Linked DNA regions of Homo sapiens: region 2 is linked to region 1. A link means that fine-mapping ties the variant in region 1 to the expression of a gene that starts in the linked region. Tissue or cell type: macrophages. Region 1 holds a variant in brackets; the other region holds the start of a gene. All regions are shown on one strand. Distances are from middle to middle.

The links. PIP is the estimated chance that this variant, and not a neighbour inherited with it, causes the effect.
Region 2: IFT46 starts here. The variant in region 1 is fine-mapped to the expression of IFT46 in macrophages (Nedelec 2016, PIP 0.91).

The regions. Positions count from the first base shown.
Region 1 is chr11:118,584,535-118,592,786 of GRCh38, forward strand. ARCN1 (archain 1 coat protein complex I subunit delta) reads left to right here. Exons shown (of 10, transcript NM_001655.5): 5 at 1-110; 6 at 5,807-5,972; 7 at 8,175-8,252. Among named protein-coding and RNA genes, the nearest start is that of ARCN1, 16 kb to the left of the region's middle. RefSeq lists a silencer at 6,292-6,502. The variant C/CTTTATTT (reference allele first, on the strand shown) is at 4,888.
Region 2 is chr11:118,561,964-118,569,963 of GRCh38, forward strand. IFT46 (intraflagellar transport 46) reads right to left here and starts at 3,968. Exons shown (of 12, transcript NM_001168618.2): 1 at 3,827-3,968; 2 at 3,002-3,098. LOC124902764 (a long non-coding RNA gene) reads left to right here and starts at 3,098. Exons shown (of 4, transcript XR_007062907.1): 1 at 3,098-3,411; 2 at 3,649-3,742; 3 at 4,239-4,323; 4 at 6,115-6,636. RefSeq lists an enhancer at 4,011-4,240.

The DNA.
Region 1 (8,252 bases):
AACTTTGTGGACAAATTAAAATCTGAAGGTGAAACCATCATGTCCTCTAGTATGGGCAAGCGTACTTCTGAAGCAACCAAAATGCATGCTCCACCCATTAATATGGAAAGGTAAGTAGGAACTTTGAGTAAGAATTCAAGCTTTGAATACAGTCCACATAATTTTTTAAAAATCTTATTTCAGTGTGCTATAAATTCTTTCTCTGTCTTTTAATCGTTCCTGATTTAAAAGATTTATTCAGAGCAGATTCTACATATTAACATAAGATCGTTTTTGGTTTTGTTTTGTTTTATTTACTTATTTTTTTTTGAGATGGAGTCTCACTCTGTCACCCAGGCTGGAGTGCAGTGGTGTGATCTCGGCTCGCTGCAAGCTCTCCCTCCCAGGTTCACGCCATTCTCCTGCCTCAGCCTCCCGAGTAGCTGGGACCACAGGCGCCCACCCCTACGCCCGGCTAATTTTTTTGTATTTTTAGTAGAGATGGGGTTTCGCCGTGTTAGCCAGAATGGTCTCGATCTCCTGACCTTGTGATCCGCCTGACTCAGCCTCCCGAAGTGCTGGGATTACAGGCGTGAGCCACCACGCCCGGCTGTTGTTTTGTTTTATTTTTTTGAGACAGGGTCTTACTATGTTGTCTAGGCTGGCCTCCAACTCCTGAGCTCAGTTAATCTTCCTGCCTCAGCCTCCCAAGTAACTGGGATACAGGCATGCGTTGCTGCACCTGACCTTTTCCTTTTTCCTTAAACCATGATTGGGGGCCCTCAGCCACCTATTTTCTATGAAGTTTAGAACTTTCCTTTTACAGCTAAATTAAAGTTACTTGTAGTCACACCTGGTATATAGCGTATCTCTTAGAATGCACTTGAATTAGGGGACTAGAGCTATGGTGACCCCACACTGTATTTTGGCATGACTTTTTCTAATTAAAGTCTAAGTAGAACCAATCTTTAATCCAAAACTTGTAGATATCTTTAATAGCAAATTAATATATTTTGCATTTTTATTTTATTTATTTATTTTTTTGAGATGGGGTTTCACTCTGTCACCCAGGCTGGAGTACAGTGGTGCAATCTCAGCTTGTTGCAACCTCTGCCTCCCAGGTTCAAGTGATTCTCCCACCTCAGCCTCCCAAGTAGCTGGGACTACAGGCATGCACCACCACGCTGGGCTAATTTCTGTATTTTGGTAGAGATGGGGTTTTGCCTTGTTGCCCAGGCTGGTCTCGAACTCCTGGACTCAAGCAATCTGCCTGCCTCGGCCTCACAAAGTACTGGGATTACAGGCGTCAGCCACCATGCCCAGCCATCTTTTGCAGTTTAAATATTTGAAGCCAGTATGGAATATTTTGATTCATCTCTTATCTCAGGGCTGTGGTACTGGTTGGTGACATTTTTAAGTGGTAGTTATCAAGTTCACATATTCGTGACTCAGATTTCTCGTCTTGAAGCCAGACCTTCTACTGTTGCTGATGGTTTTGAGGTCAAGTGAAAGATAATACCAGGAGGATACCTTTATCAGGTGTGCATAAAAGAGGAGTATTTACTCTTTTTCTTTCTTCTTTCCTTTCTTTCTTCCTTTCTTTCTTTCTTGACAGAGTCTTGCTCTGTCTCCCAGACTGGAGTGCAATGGCACGATCTTGCAACCTCCACCTCCCGGGGTCAAGCAATTCTCCTGCCTCAGCCTCCCAAGTGGCTGGGATTACAGGTGCACGCCATCACACCCGGCTAATTTTCTTATTTTTAGTAGAGACAGAGTTTTGCCGTGTTGGCCAGGTGGGTCTCGAACTCCTGACCTCAAGTGATCTGCCTGCCTCTGCCTCCCAAAAGTGCTTGGATTATAGGCGTGAGCCACCGTGCCCAGCCAAGTATTTACTCTTTATATGCCCTGTTCTGTATGAAATGAACAGGGTTACATTGGGATAAATTTCTTGATTCACTAAAGCCGCTGTGCTCTTCCTAGTGGTTGCTTTGAGTGAGACAGAGGCTTCACACTTTTAAAAAGATATTCCTGAGTGCAGTGGCCCACACCTGTAATCTTAGCACTTTGGGAGGCTGAGGTGGGCGGATTGCCTGAGCTCAGGAGTTCAAGACCACCCTGGGCAACATGGTGAAACTCCATCTCCACTAAAATACAAAAAATTAACCCCTTCTCCACTAAAATACAAAAAATTAGATGGGCGTGGTGGCACACACCTGTAGTCCCAGCTACTCAGGAGGCTGAGGCAGGAGAATTGCTTGAACCCGGGAAGCAGAGGTTGCAGTGAGCCAAGATGGTGCCACTGCACTCCAGCCTGGGCGACAGAGTGAGACTCTATCTCCAAAAAAAAAAAAAAAAAAAAAATGTTGGAGATCATCACATATTAAAGAGAATTTGAGACACTGTTTTTTTCTAAATGATAAATTGCCTCTTGAGCACAGAGCAAACTTTTGTGAAGGTAAAATGGTACCATGCATTGTCTTAAGATGCACTCCTTTATGGTCTTGACTCTGATGCCTTTGTTTCTAGGAAGACCTAAGAGGTTGGAACAAAGAACATGGTAGGATAACAAAATATTTTTTGTAGCCTCTGTAGTTCATCCAGCCAAACGTATGTCTATTACTGAATATGAATAGATTGTACTTAATACTTGCCTCTAGCAGCAGCAGTTTTTAATCTTTTAAAAATTGGATTATACATTCATATAGTACAAAATTCAAAAGTTGTTAACAGTCAGAAGTCTTCCTCTCACTCAGCCATGCCAGTTTCTCATTTTGGAGACAACTAGTATTAACAGAGTTTTTTGTGTATCCTTCTAAGGGGGATGGTCTGTGATATACAGATGAATAAAAAACATGTATACAGTGTGTCTATTTTTCCCCCTTTTATGCAAAGCAGTAAAACTAGACACGTCTTCCAATTGCATTTTTCATTTAATTATTTTGGAGATAAGAATCTCCTTATTTGAAACTGCAGAGATATGACATCTAAATGCGCAATACCTTACCCTAGACTGGATCCTCTACTAATGTAGTGTAGAAAAAACAACTCAAACTGTTTGTTTTTTCTATTTTCTCATTCAACAGCAACAATGAACACAGAAGACTTCTGTGATCAAGTGTGTTTAGATTTTTCCGCACACATCAAGCGGTCACACCTAGCTGGTGTCCTCCAATTCAATTCAATTCTGATGCTATCTACCTGGGAATAGCCTCAGATTCTACAGGTTGAGAGTTCAGTCCCCCAAGACTGATTCTTCCTTCCCACCAGTCATAAGTCCAGACTTTCAGAACTTCTTACTGACCTCAAGTTTGGCCTCCCACGACCCCCTCTGGGGTGTTCAATTAATCTGCTAGAGCACCTCACAGAACTCAGGGAAACTTACTTGACATTTATCAGTTTGTTACAGAGGACATTTTAAAGGATGCAAATAAGCAGCCAGATGAAGAGATACATAGGGCAAGGTCTGGGAGGGTCTTGAGCACAGGAGCTTCTGTCCCCAGGGAGCTGGGGTACGCCACCCTCCTGGAAAATAGATGAGACCTTGTTCATCTTCCTGTAAGCCTGCATGTGTTCAGCTGTCCAGAAGCTTCCCAGACCCTGTCCTCTTGAGCCTTTTATGGAGACTTCATTGGATAGGCATGATTGACAGGCATGCAGAAATGTGACTGGGCAAGGGTATGACCTAATACTGATAGGCTGAGTGGGGAAACACAGCAAGGCCTGTCCAAATTCTTGGCCTCTCTGTGCAGCATTAATCTTCCTCCAGGATATGGTGCAGGACCCCTTTTGGAGATCCTGCCTTGGGCTGGTGAAAGGAGGGCAGGAGAAGGTCAAAGAGAGGTTCTTTTTTCTAAGGGCTGCTCCTGAGGCCTAAAGTGCCCCAACATTATGTATAATAAGGGATATGGGAGTTATGAGCTAGGAACCATGGATGAAAACCGGTATGTATGTATATCATAATATCACAACTACTATTAAAAATATTATTAGGTCAACTGACGAAATTGACATATGGTTGACAGATCGGATACAATTATTGTATCATTGTTAGCCTGGCATGATGGCACATGGCTGTAGTCCTTCCTACTCAGGAGGCTGAGGCAGGAGGATCACTTGAGACCAGGAGTTCAAGGTTATAGTGAACTGTGATTGTGTCTCTGAATAGCCACTGCACTCCAGCCTGGGCAACATAGCAAGATCTGTCTCTTAAACAACAACAACAGGCTGGGTGCGGTGGCTCACGCCTGTAATCCCAACACTTCGGGAGGCCGAGGCAGGCAGATCACCTGAGGTCAGGAGTTCAAGACCAGCCTGGCCAGCATGGTAAAACTCTGACTCTAGTAAAAATACAAAAATGAACCGGGCGTGGTGGCAGGTGCCTGAAATCCCAGCTACGCAGGAGGCTGAGACAGGAGAATCACTTGAACCCGGGAGGCAGAGGTTGCAGTGAGCCGAGATCACGCCATTGCACTCCAGCCTGGGCAAGAAGAGTGAAACTCTATCTCAAAACAACAACAACAAAAAGCTAAAAAAACTATCAGTGTAAATTTGTGAAGTTAATAATGGTACTGTGATTGATTATGTAAGAGAATATCCCTAATCTTATAAAATAAGCACTGAAGTATTTAGGGGTAAAGTGCCGTGTTGTATATAATCTGCTTCTTAATGGTTCAGGGAAAAAAAATCAAATGTATAACATACATATATAATGTTTAGAGAGAGAGAAACACAAGTGCAAATTATAAAACAAATGAGGTAAATATTAACAATAGGTGAATCTGGAAAAGGGTATATATGTCTTCCTTGTATAATTTTAATTTTTTTAAGCTTGAAAATACTTACAAATAGAAAGTTTTTTCAGTTGTTTGTTTTCTCACCATTGCCTACTATTCATTCGGGTGGATATGC[C/CTTTATTT]TTTATTTTTTATTTTTTATTTTTTTGAGACAGAGTCTCACTCTGTTGCCCAGGCTGGAGTGCAGTGGCACCATCTCGGCTCACTGCAAGCTCCGCCTCCTGAGTTCACGTCATTCTCCCACCTCAGCCTCCTGAGTAGGCGCCCGTCACCACACCCGGCTAATTTTGTTTTTGTATTTTTAGTAGAGGTGGGGTTTCACCATGTTAGCCAGGATGGTCTCGATCTTCTGACCTCGTGATCTACCCGCCTTGGCCTCCCAAAGTGCTGGGATTACAGGCGTGAGCCACCACGCCCGTGAATATGCCTTTATTTGAGCAGCCCCCTATTGGCAGACATGTTTCTAAACTTTTGCCATTACAAACAATTCTTCAGTGAATAACTTAGCAGATTGTTTTGCACAGGTGAGAATTTATCTGTAGGATAGAGTCTGTTGAAGAATTGCTGTATCAAAGGGTATCGCCTTTTAAATGTTGATAGCTATAGCAGTAGCACCTTTAAAAAAACGTTGTTGATGGCTAATCATTAGACCTTGGAGAAAGGGAGTTCTGATTTCTACCTTTCTTTTTTCTTTTCTTTTCTTTTTTATTTTTTGAGACAGAGTTTCACTCTTGTTGCCCAGGCTGGAGTGCAGTGGGACAATCTCGGCTCACCACAGCCTCTGCCTCGTGGTTCAAGCGATTCTCCTGCCTTAGCCTCCCAAGTAGCTGGGACTACAGGCATGCACCACCACGCCTGGCTAATTTTGTATTTTTAGTAGAGACGGGGTTTCTCCATGTTGGTCAGGCTGGTCTCGAACTCCCCACCTCAGGTGATCTGCCCGCCTTGGCCTCCCAAAGTGCTGGGGTTATAGGCATGAGCCACCACGCCCGGCCATTGGTTTCTACCTTTCTGAACAAATGTATTACTTTCTCTTTATAGTGTACATATGAAGATTGAAGAAAAGATAACATTAACCTGTGGACGAGACGGAGGATTACAGAATATGGAGTTGCATGGCATGATCATGCTTAGGATCTCAGATGACAAGTATGGCCGAATTCGTCTTCATGTGGAAAATGAAGATAAGAAAGGGGTGCAGCTACAGGTGTGTAGAAGCTTTTGATAGGGAGTATTAACACTTTGTCTACCTATTATAGTCTTTCTCAACTAGAGTTCCCAATATGAACCACAGAAAATTACTTAAGTTATATAACTAGCATCACTCTAAACGCTTAGGAAAGAAGTTAATATATTGCATACAGTAGCTACCTGAGAGTGAGTAAAGCAGCTGTGTAAGGATGGCTTTTAAATATTGGAATTGAATAAAAGGTCATTTCGAAATCTAATAAATGACTTCATACTCACCAATAAAAGGTACAAGGAGGTGTTTGTCTTTTGCTGTTATGAAAACAGTAAATTAATCACTTAGGATCTTGCTTGAAATACAGTTTTAAAAAAACAAGGCTTTAGGCCAAGTGTGGTGGCTCATGCCTATAATACCAGCACTCTGAGAGGCTGAGGCTGAAGGATCGCTTGAGCCCAGGAGTTCAAGAACAGCCTGAGCAATGAGGGCTGAGCAACAAGACCCTATCTCTACAAAAACTTAAAAAATTAGCCAGGCGTGGTGGCACAATGCGAAATTTACTCATTCTGCTATTAAATAAACTGCCAGTGCTTGTTTTGTTAACTGAAGGGCAGTATCTAATGGTGTATTTGAAAAGTACATAAAATCCTTTCAATATAAGTGTGTGTGTTCCAACTATTGGATAGATATATATAAGCCCTGCTTTATGTTACAGGTGTTCTTGTAATTTCATTTCATTTAGCCGACATCTCGTCACAAGAACAAAGCCTTTTTACGGAAGAGTGTTTTTGTCTACTTTCCCCACCGTAGTCAGCACAGAATTGTCTTTTGGAAGCAGTGCTTATATTATTTGACATTTTTGCTGGCTTGTAAAGTGCTATCCAAAAGTGATTTCTGTTTTGTTTTGTTTTGTTTTGTTTTCCTGAGATGGAGTCTCTCTCTGTTGCCCAAGCTGGAGTTCTGTGGTACGATCTTGGTTCACTGCAACTTCTGCCTCCCCAGTTGAAGCAGTTCTCCTGCCTCAGCCTGCTGAGTAGCTGGGATTACAGGCACCTGCCACCATGCCCAGCTAATTTTTTTTATTTTTAGTAAAGATGGGGTTTCACCATGTTGGCCAAGCTGGTCTCGAACTCTTGACCTCATGATTCGCCCACCTCATCATCCCAAAGTGTTGGGATTGTAGTCATGAGCCACCATGCCCAGCCCTTCTGGGTTTTTTTTGTTTTTGTCTTGTTTTTTTGTTCTTTTTTTTGTTTTTTTTTTTGTTTTTGCACAGTCTCTCTCTGTCATGCGGGCTGGAGTGCAGCAGCACAACCTTGGCTCGCTGCAGCCTTAACCTCCTAGGCTCAAGCAATGCTTCCTCTTCAGCCTCCATAGTAGCTGGAACTATAGGTGTGCACCACCACACCCAGCTATTTATTTATTTATTTATTTATTTATTTTTTATTTTTTGAGACGGAGTTTCACTCTTCCTGCCCAGGTTGGAGTGCAATGGTGTGATCTCGGCTCACCGCAACCTCTGCCTCCCGGGTTCAAGCCATTCTCCTGCCTCAGCCTCTCGAGTAGGTGGGATTACAGGCGTGCGCCACCATGTCCAGCCCCAGCTAACTTTTGTATTTTTAATAGAGATAGGGTTTTGCCATGTTGGCCAGGCTGATGTCAAACTCCTGACCTTCAATGCCCCTCTCACCTCAGCCTCCCCAAAAGCAATTTCTTTTAAAAAGATAAGACTATCTTAATTGGCTTGGATTTTAACAACTTTAAGTCTCTAGGCAAAATTGCAACTAGACTTTACACAGAGCTTGCCCTTTTCTGCTACTTTATATAAGGCCAGAACTGCTGTCTGACCCAGGCAGCTGATCAGGGTCTTACTGGAGCCTTCTGCTTGGCAAACCTGGCCCCACCATGAACCTGCTCCCTGTGAAGTATTTTTGGAAAGAACTTGGTTAATAGTCTTTTAACTTTTTCAGGTGCAAACTTGTTCTGTAATGGCTTTTAGAGTTGAAATTAGCTTTTTTTTTAAAAAATTACTAGTTTTTAAGTATCTTAAATCATTTTAAAATAAGTCTTTGAAGAAGGGAAATCTTTCTTCAAAATGAAAAAGAATTGGAATTTGTTAGGTACTCTATTTTGGATGTTTAGATTGTGGGCCATATAAGCCTAGTGAGGGGTTGTTTCTCGTCTATCTGAACCTCAGGAGTTTTCCTTTCCCTCTCATTCTAGACCCATCCAAATGTGGATAAAAAACTTTTCACTGCAGAGTCTCTAATTGGCCTGAAGAATCCAGAGAAGTCATTTCCA
Region 2 (8,000 bases), 23 kb before region 1:
CCCTGTCTCTACAAAAAATACAAAAATTAGGCCGGGCACAGTGGCTCCTGCCTGTAATCCCAGCACTTTGGGAGGCTGAGGCGGGTGGATCACCTGAGGTCAGGAGTTCGAGACCAGCCTGGCCAACATGGTGAAACCCCGTCTCTACTAAAAATACAAAAAAATTAGCCAGGTGTGGTGGCACACTCCTATAATCCCAGCTACTCAGGAGGCTGAGGCAGGAGAATCGCTTGAACCTGGGAGGTTGAGGTTGCAGTGGGCCGAGATCACGCCATTGCACTCCAGCCTGGGCGACAGAGCAAGACTCCATCTCAAAAAAAAAAAAAATTAGCTGGACATGGGGGCATGGGCTGGTAGTCCCAGCTACCGGGGGTTCTGAAGCAGGAGGACTGCATGAGCCCAGGAGGTCGAGGCTGCAGTGAACCGTGATCATGCTACCGCACTCCAGCCTGGGTGACAGAGCAAAACTCTGTCTCTATAAATAAAAAATTAAATTAAAATAAAAGTATAATTAGATGTAAGGCATTAACTGGAATGAAAACATGATAAATGATTTCTATATCAAATAAATGCAAATTAAACCCTTTTTTTATTTACTAAATTAGCCCAAATTAAAAACAAATTATAATATCCACAGCTGTCAAGAGCATAAACACGCTCAAGTCAAAAACCTAGGTGGCTAGGTCCCAAAGAATTGAAAACAGGGACTCAAATGGACACTTGTACACCTCTGTTCATAGCAGTGTTATTCACAATAGCCAAAATATGAAAACAACCCGAGTGTCCATTAACAAATGAATGAATTAAAAAACGTGGCATAGGCTTGGTGCGGTGGCTCACGCCTGTAATCCCAACACTTTGGGAGGCCGAGGTGGGTGGATCACAAGGTCAGGAGATCGAGGCCATCCGGGCCAACATGGTGAAACCCCGTCTCTACTAAGAATACAAAAAATTAGCTGGGTGTGGTGGTGTGCACCTGTAGTCCCAACTACTCAGGAGGCTGAGGCAGGAGAGTCGCTTGAACCCGGGAGGCGTAGGTTGCAGTGAGCCAAGATCGTGCCACTGCACTCCAGCCTGGGTGACAGAGCGAAATTCAGTCTCAAAAAAAAAAAAAAGTGCAATATACATGCAATGGAATATTACTCAGCCTTAAAAAGAAAGTCTACATTCAACAACACAGATGAACCTTAAGAACATCACAATAAGTGAAGTAAGTCAGCCACAAAAGGATAAATACAGTATGATTTCACTTATGTGGTTCCCAGAATAAGCAAACTCATACAGACAGTAGAATAGTGGTTACCAGGGAGGAGTGGAAGCAAGCAATAGGGAACTATTGTTTTGAAGGGTATGGATTTTCTGTTCAGGATGATCTGGAAATAGTGGCGATGGTTAAACAACATTGTGAATGTACTTAATGTTATTTAATTGCACACTTAAAAATTGTTAAAATGGCAAATTTTATGTTATGTATATTTTACCACAATAAACAAACAGAAACCCTGGATGTCATCCTTGATTCCTAACTCGAGTCAAATCCAATCCATCACCAAGTCTTAGTGATTCTGCGACAATGTCTTATACCGTATTTGCCTCTTTTCTTTATTCTCAGCTTCCTCACCAGAGGCCAAGCCACTATCATCTCAACTCAGCCATCACAACAGTCCATTCCACACACGACAGCAACACAGCCTCCAAAGCTCTGCTTATTGTGCTTCCTGCCCTACCTCTCTGATCTGACCATATCATACGGTAGTGTCCCCTCTACCATAAGCTGGTCTCTTTCAGGTCCTCAAACTAAGCCAAGTTCTTTCAGGCTTCAAGGTTTTTCACATCTCACATACTGTTTCCTCTTCCTGGTCTACTTTTCCTCAGTGTCTGGATCCCTGCCATCTATCAGTCTTACATGTCACCCCTTTAGGTCTTCCCTGACCACCCTATCAAAAGTGGGTTTCTGGCCAGGTACGGTGGCTCATACCTGTAATCCCAGCACTTTGGGAGGCCGAGGCAGGTGGATCAGTTGGGGTCAGGAGTTCGAGACCAGCCTGGCCAACATGGTGAAACCCCGTCTCTACTAAAAATACTAAAATTAGCTGGGTGTGGTAATCCCAGCTACTCGGGAGGCTGAGGAAGGAGAATCACTTGAACCCAGGAGGCGGAGATTGCAGTGAGCCAAGATCGCACCACTGCACTCCAGCCTGTGTGATAGAGTGAGACTCTGTCTCAAAAAAAAAAAAAAAAAAAAAAAAAAAGTGGGTCTCCTTCCTCACTGTTATTCTCCTTAACAGCAAACAATCTGCCTCCATCAGTGTGCACTTACCACATTTGGCATGTGTTTACTCATTTGTCATCTGCCTCCCATGATTACCAGCATCGGGATGGCAGGGACATTGTGTCATTTAACACTATTTACCCAAGTGCCAGGCATAAGGCTGGCACACAGTAGGCATTTTAAAATGCTTGTTGGCCAGACACGATGGCTCACACCTATAATCCCAGCACTTTGGGAGGCCAAAGCGGAAGGACTGCTTGAGGCTAGGAGTTCAAGATCAGCCTTGGTAACATAGCGAGGCCTCGTCTCTATAAAATTAAGAAAAAAAAGTTTGTTGAATAAATAAATAGTGTTCAGTCCTTTAAAAACATTCCACTGTGATTTTGGTTGGGGTTGCAGGCTAAGGGGAGGTTATGAAGCATCTTCAAAGCTAGGAAAAACATAAGTTAAAAAAAAAGAAAAGAAAAAGAAAAAGAACAGTGAATTCCTGGCAGACAGTGAGCAAAGCAGTAACATGAAGTAAATGGTGACAGGGTTGGATTGGGGGAAGATCCTGTAATTTGGAAGGCTATGATTTCTCCCCCTTAACTAGTCAGAAAACAAACAATGGCAAGTGAAGTAAATTGACGCTGAAAGTCAACATTTGCTATTATAAAATAAGAACTTCTTGAAGACAACCGTGAATCCATCCTGCTCTTTCAGTAGCATTTCTCTTCTTTCCTCTCTTACCTTGGTGTCTTGGGGTTGGAGTATAAATACTTGCAACCTCTTCGGAGTCGTTAATCTCTAGACGCTCATCATATGTCTGGTTTTCAACAACCTTGGTCTAAGCAAAGGGAGACATAATTCATAGCTCCTATCATGAGACATAAAGCACTCTGCCAGGAGGTATATTCCAAACCAGCATTGGCTCCTCTTCCTTACTCAAGAAACCAGTTTTTCACAAAACCATCACCCCATCCAAACTTTCCTTCAGGCTTCCTGGCCCTCGGTCAAGCAGTTAAGTCATTCTGTTGCAGCCCTTATTTAGGAACTGCTGGCAGGCTGGCTGAGGAACCAGGGAATCGTGGAGGGAAAGAGAGCCAACTTCTGCAGCTTCCCAAAGCTGTACGACCACGCGCAAGGGCAGAACACTATTTGTATGTAGATGGCCAAGGCTGTTGAGGTTTCTCAGGGAAGGCTGTAGAGGTTCTAGAAAGAGTTCTGTCTCTGGAGTCACCTCTGGGGTGGGGTGGGGTGGGGTGGGGTGGGGTGGGGTGGGGTGGGCTGAGGCGGGGTAGGGTGGGAGGGTCCCCGAAGAGAGGGGAAACTCCAGTCTCTCAGTCCCATCCGATAATCCCAAAATCATCACCTCCACTTTCACCCTTATCTTGCAGATAGGATCCCACCTAAGTTTCTTGGGGGAATAAAGGAAGCAGGACGGTTGGTGGTGAGGTGACGAAGGAACAGTTACCACGGAGATTGGAAGAGGTAACCGGGAATGGGGTAAAGGGGAGTCCTCTTAAGCCTCTCTAGAAAGACAGTTCCCTTTTTGCTGGGATGAGTACTAATTACCTGTAGCCCTTCTGAATCCGTCTCCTCTATAATGGAAAGAACCCCAGCCTAGGGCTGGGGTCTCACTCCAGTCTCAAAGCCAGGCCACTTTAGGATTCCACGCCAAGCAACCAGCCTGTTGTCAGTCGCTAGGCAAAAAGATAAATTTTAAAATTCGCGAGAGTTGCTTCCACTCTCGTGAGACCTCCTGCGCGTTAAGCCTCACCCGCGAAGGCTCTCCACGCAGGAAGAAGATCAAGGAGTCACGGATAAAGCCTCTCTGGGCGGCCAAGTCGCCTGTTTGTCTATGGTTTCAGTAAATACGTCTGTTGCGGCATCTAGCGGCTATGGGTGGCAACGCGGCTGATAAATTTCGGGCTGGTGTAGAGTTAGCCCTTCAATCTGGAAACAAGGTGTGCGTTTGTTCCCCTAGGACAACAATCTCTGGGGATGCAGTTGCTCCCAGATCAGTCTTACCAGGATGTAGACACATTCCAGGGGAAATTTCGCAGCACTCTGTAAGTCCTTTTCTAGCACTATATTACACTATAGTCTTTCCCCTCCACAGGGTGCCATGGAATGGAACATACTTATAGCAATAAATTATTCCTTGGGTATCTGAGGTTCAAATTTAACTCTGTGGGCCGGGCGCGGTGGCTCACGCCTGTAATCCCAGCACTTTGGGAGGCCAAGGCGGGCGGATCACGAGGTCAGGAGATCGAGACCATCCTGGCTAACACGGTGAAACCCCGTCTCTACTAAAAAATTCAAAAAATTAGCCGGGCGTGGTGGCGGACGCCTGTAGTCCCAGCTACTCGAGAGGCTGAGGCAGGAGAATGGCATGAACCCAGGAGGCGGAGCTTGCAGGGAGCCGAGATCGCACCACTGCACTCCAGCCTGGGCAACAAAGCGAGACTCCGTCTCAAAAAAAATTTTTTTTCACTCTGTGTCCTGTCTTTCTTATTTGCTAAAGTAGACTTTTAACTTATTTAAAGCAAGACCTGTGTCTAATTAATTTTTAAGCTTTGTAACACCAGTGTATTGCAGAAATTAGACACTAACAATGCTCATTGGGTGGATGAATCGAGGAATGAGTGAATGGAGATGTAAGGAACAAATATTTTCAAACTGTGGACATAATTAATTTGGGAAGTCAGGGAGAGAGAAACATAAAATATTGGAGGCCAGGTGCGGTGGCTCACACCTGTAATCCCAGCACTTCAGGAGGTAGAGGTGGGACGATTGCTTGAGTTCAGGAGTTTGAGACCAGCTAGAGCAACATAGCAAGAACCGCCCCCCTCCACTCTATTAAAAATAAAAAAAAAATTTTTTTTAATTAGCCAGGTGTGGTGGCACGCACCTATAGTGCTAGCCACTCGGGAGGCTGAGGCGGGGGGATTGCTTGAGCCAGGGAGGCAGAGGTTGCAGTGAACCGAGATTGGGCCACTGCATTCACTCCAGCCTGGGCAACAGATCAAGACCCCATCTCAAATATAAATAATGAATAATAACAATAATAATTTTTTGGTCGGGCACGGTGGCTCACGCCTGTAATCCCAGCACTTTGGGAGGCCAAGGTGGGTGGATCACAAGGTCAGGAGTTCAAGACCAGCCTGACCAACATGGTGAAACCCCCGTCTCTACTAAAAATACAAAAATTAGCTAGGCATGGTGGCGCGCGCCTGTAATCCCAGCCACTCAGGAGGCTGCGGCAGGAGAATTGCTTGAACCCGGGAGGTGGAGGTTGTGGTGAGCCGAGATCGCACCACTGCACTCCAGCCTGGGCGACAGGGCGAGACTCCGTCTCAAAATAATAATAATAGCAATACATTTTAAAAAGAAAATAATATTGGAAATTTGACCCTGAAAACCTACCAGAGGTAAACAAGGAAAGTGCCTTTAAAAAATGAGAGACAGCTTTTCTGGCATACTGATAGTTAAAAATAGAACTGCATTTAAAAAAAAATTTGTGATCTGTTTTGCTCGTAATAGTGGATATGTAATGTGCAGTACTTACTATGTAGGAGCACTTAGTTTTTTTGTGGGGAGCACTTAGATTATATCATCTAATTTACTTCACAACCTTATGAGATAGATGTTACTGCCAATCTACAGATTAAGTAATTGAGGCTTAGACAGTTAAAGTAACTTGCCTAAAGTCACTCATAATAAGCGCTGAAAATAGCAGCCAAACACAGGTCAGTCTGATTCCTAAGTCTCTGCTTTTAACCATTATAAGATACTGCCACTATGGGACTCCTCAAGAAGCATGCTTACAGGGTTGCTTTTTCTTCTGTGGTTTAATTCAGCTACCGTTATATTTCCGAAGAAGCAGCATCAACTGGTCTTTGCTGAGCTTCTGAGATCCAAGTTGGAAGCCCTGGAAGGTGCTACAATAAGGCAATAGTTTCTAACAGGATTTTTACTTTTCTAAAAAAATAAGAATTTGTTCCATGTTTCTTAAAATATGTCTGCTTTTTGTAACAAAAATTAAAATTGGGCCAGGTGAAGTGGCTCACGCCTGTAATCCTAGGACTTTGGGAGGCCGAGGCAGGTGGATCACCAGAGGTCAAGAGTTCAAGACCAGCCTGTCCCAACATGGTGAAACCCCCATCTCTACTAAAAATACAAAAATTAGCCAGGTGTGGTGGTGCATGCCTGTAATCCTAGCTACTCAGGAGGCTGAGACAGGAGAATCGCTTGAACCCGGGAGGCGGAGGTTGCAGTGAGTTAAGATGGCACCACTGCATTCTAGCCTGGGCGACAGAGTGAGACTGTCTCAAAATAAATAAATAAATAATAAATAAATAAATAAAAAGTTACCCCATAAATGTGTACAGTTGTTATCTTTTTTAGGACATTTCATCATCCCCTAAAGAAAGTTTGTACCCATTGTCACTTTTTTTTTCTTTTTTTGAGACAGGGTCTCACTCTGTCGCCCAGGCTGGAATACAGTGACGAGACCTCAGCTCACTGCTATCTCTGCCTCGGGGTTCAAGCGATTCTCCCACCGAGTAGCTGGGACTATAGGCATGGGCCACCACGCCCAGCTAATTTTTGTATTTTTAGTAGAGATGGGGTTTCACCATGTTGCTCAGGCTGGTCTGGAATTCCTGACCTCAAGTGATCCGCCCACCTCGGCCTCCCAAAATGCTGGGATTACAGGCGTAAGCCACCGCACCTGGCCAGTGGGTACAAGTATTATGTGTCAATTAGAAAATTTAAAAATAGGCCGGGAGCTGTGGCTCACGCCTGTAATCCCAGCACTCTGGGAGGCTGAGGCAGGCAGATCACTTGAGGTTAGGAGTTCAAGACCAGCCTGGCCATGGTGAAACCCCATCTCTACTAAAAATACAAAAAACTAGCCAGGCGTGGTCGTCCATGCCTGTAATCCCAGCTACTTGGGAGGCTAAGTCAGGAGAATCCCTCCAACCCAGGAGGCAGAGGTTGCAGTGAGCTGAGATCATACCATTGCACTCCAGCCCGGGCAACAAAAGCGAAACTCCTTCTCAAAAAAAAAAAATTTTTTTTTTTAAAATATTGACTGGGCTCAGTGGCTCATTCCTGCAATCCCAGAACTTTGGGGGGACAAGATGGGAGTACTGCTTGAGGTCAGGAGTTCGAGACCAGCCTGGGCAACATAGCAAGACCCCCATCTCTCTAAAAAAGTTTTTTTAATGAAAAAAAACTTTAAAATACAGTTTGACATATATCCTCCCAGACATATAAAATTTAAAAATATTTGAGCTTTCTAAAGATTTCTATTAGAAGGCCATTGGAGATGGAATTGATACGGGTAAGAGCAAGAAGTCTATAATGCAGTGCTTAAGGGTATAGTCCAAAGTTGAACAGCCTTTGTTTGAATCCTCGCTTACCTACTTTTTAGCCATGAGACCTGTGGTGGGATAGTTTTCTTCTCTGTACCTTGATTTCCTCATGTGTAAAATGGAGACAATAAAGGTACCTATCTCAGAGGATTCTTGTGAGGATTAAATGAGATAATCTGTGTGAAGTTAGAGTAATGGCTGGTATGCTGTAAGTGTTCAATAAATGTTAGGGAACACACAGGAGATACAGAGGCAGTGTGTTTTAATGGAAAAAGCTGACTTTGTTTTTTTGTTTGTTTGTTTTGAGACTGAGTGTTACTCTGTTGCCCAGTCTGGAGGGCAGTGTTGTGATCTCAACTCACTGCAAC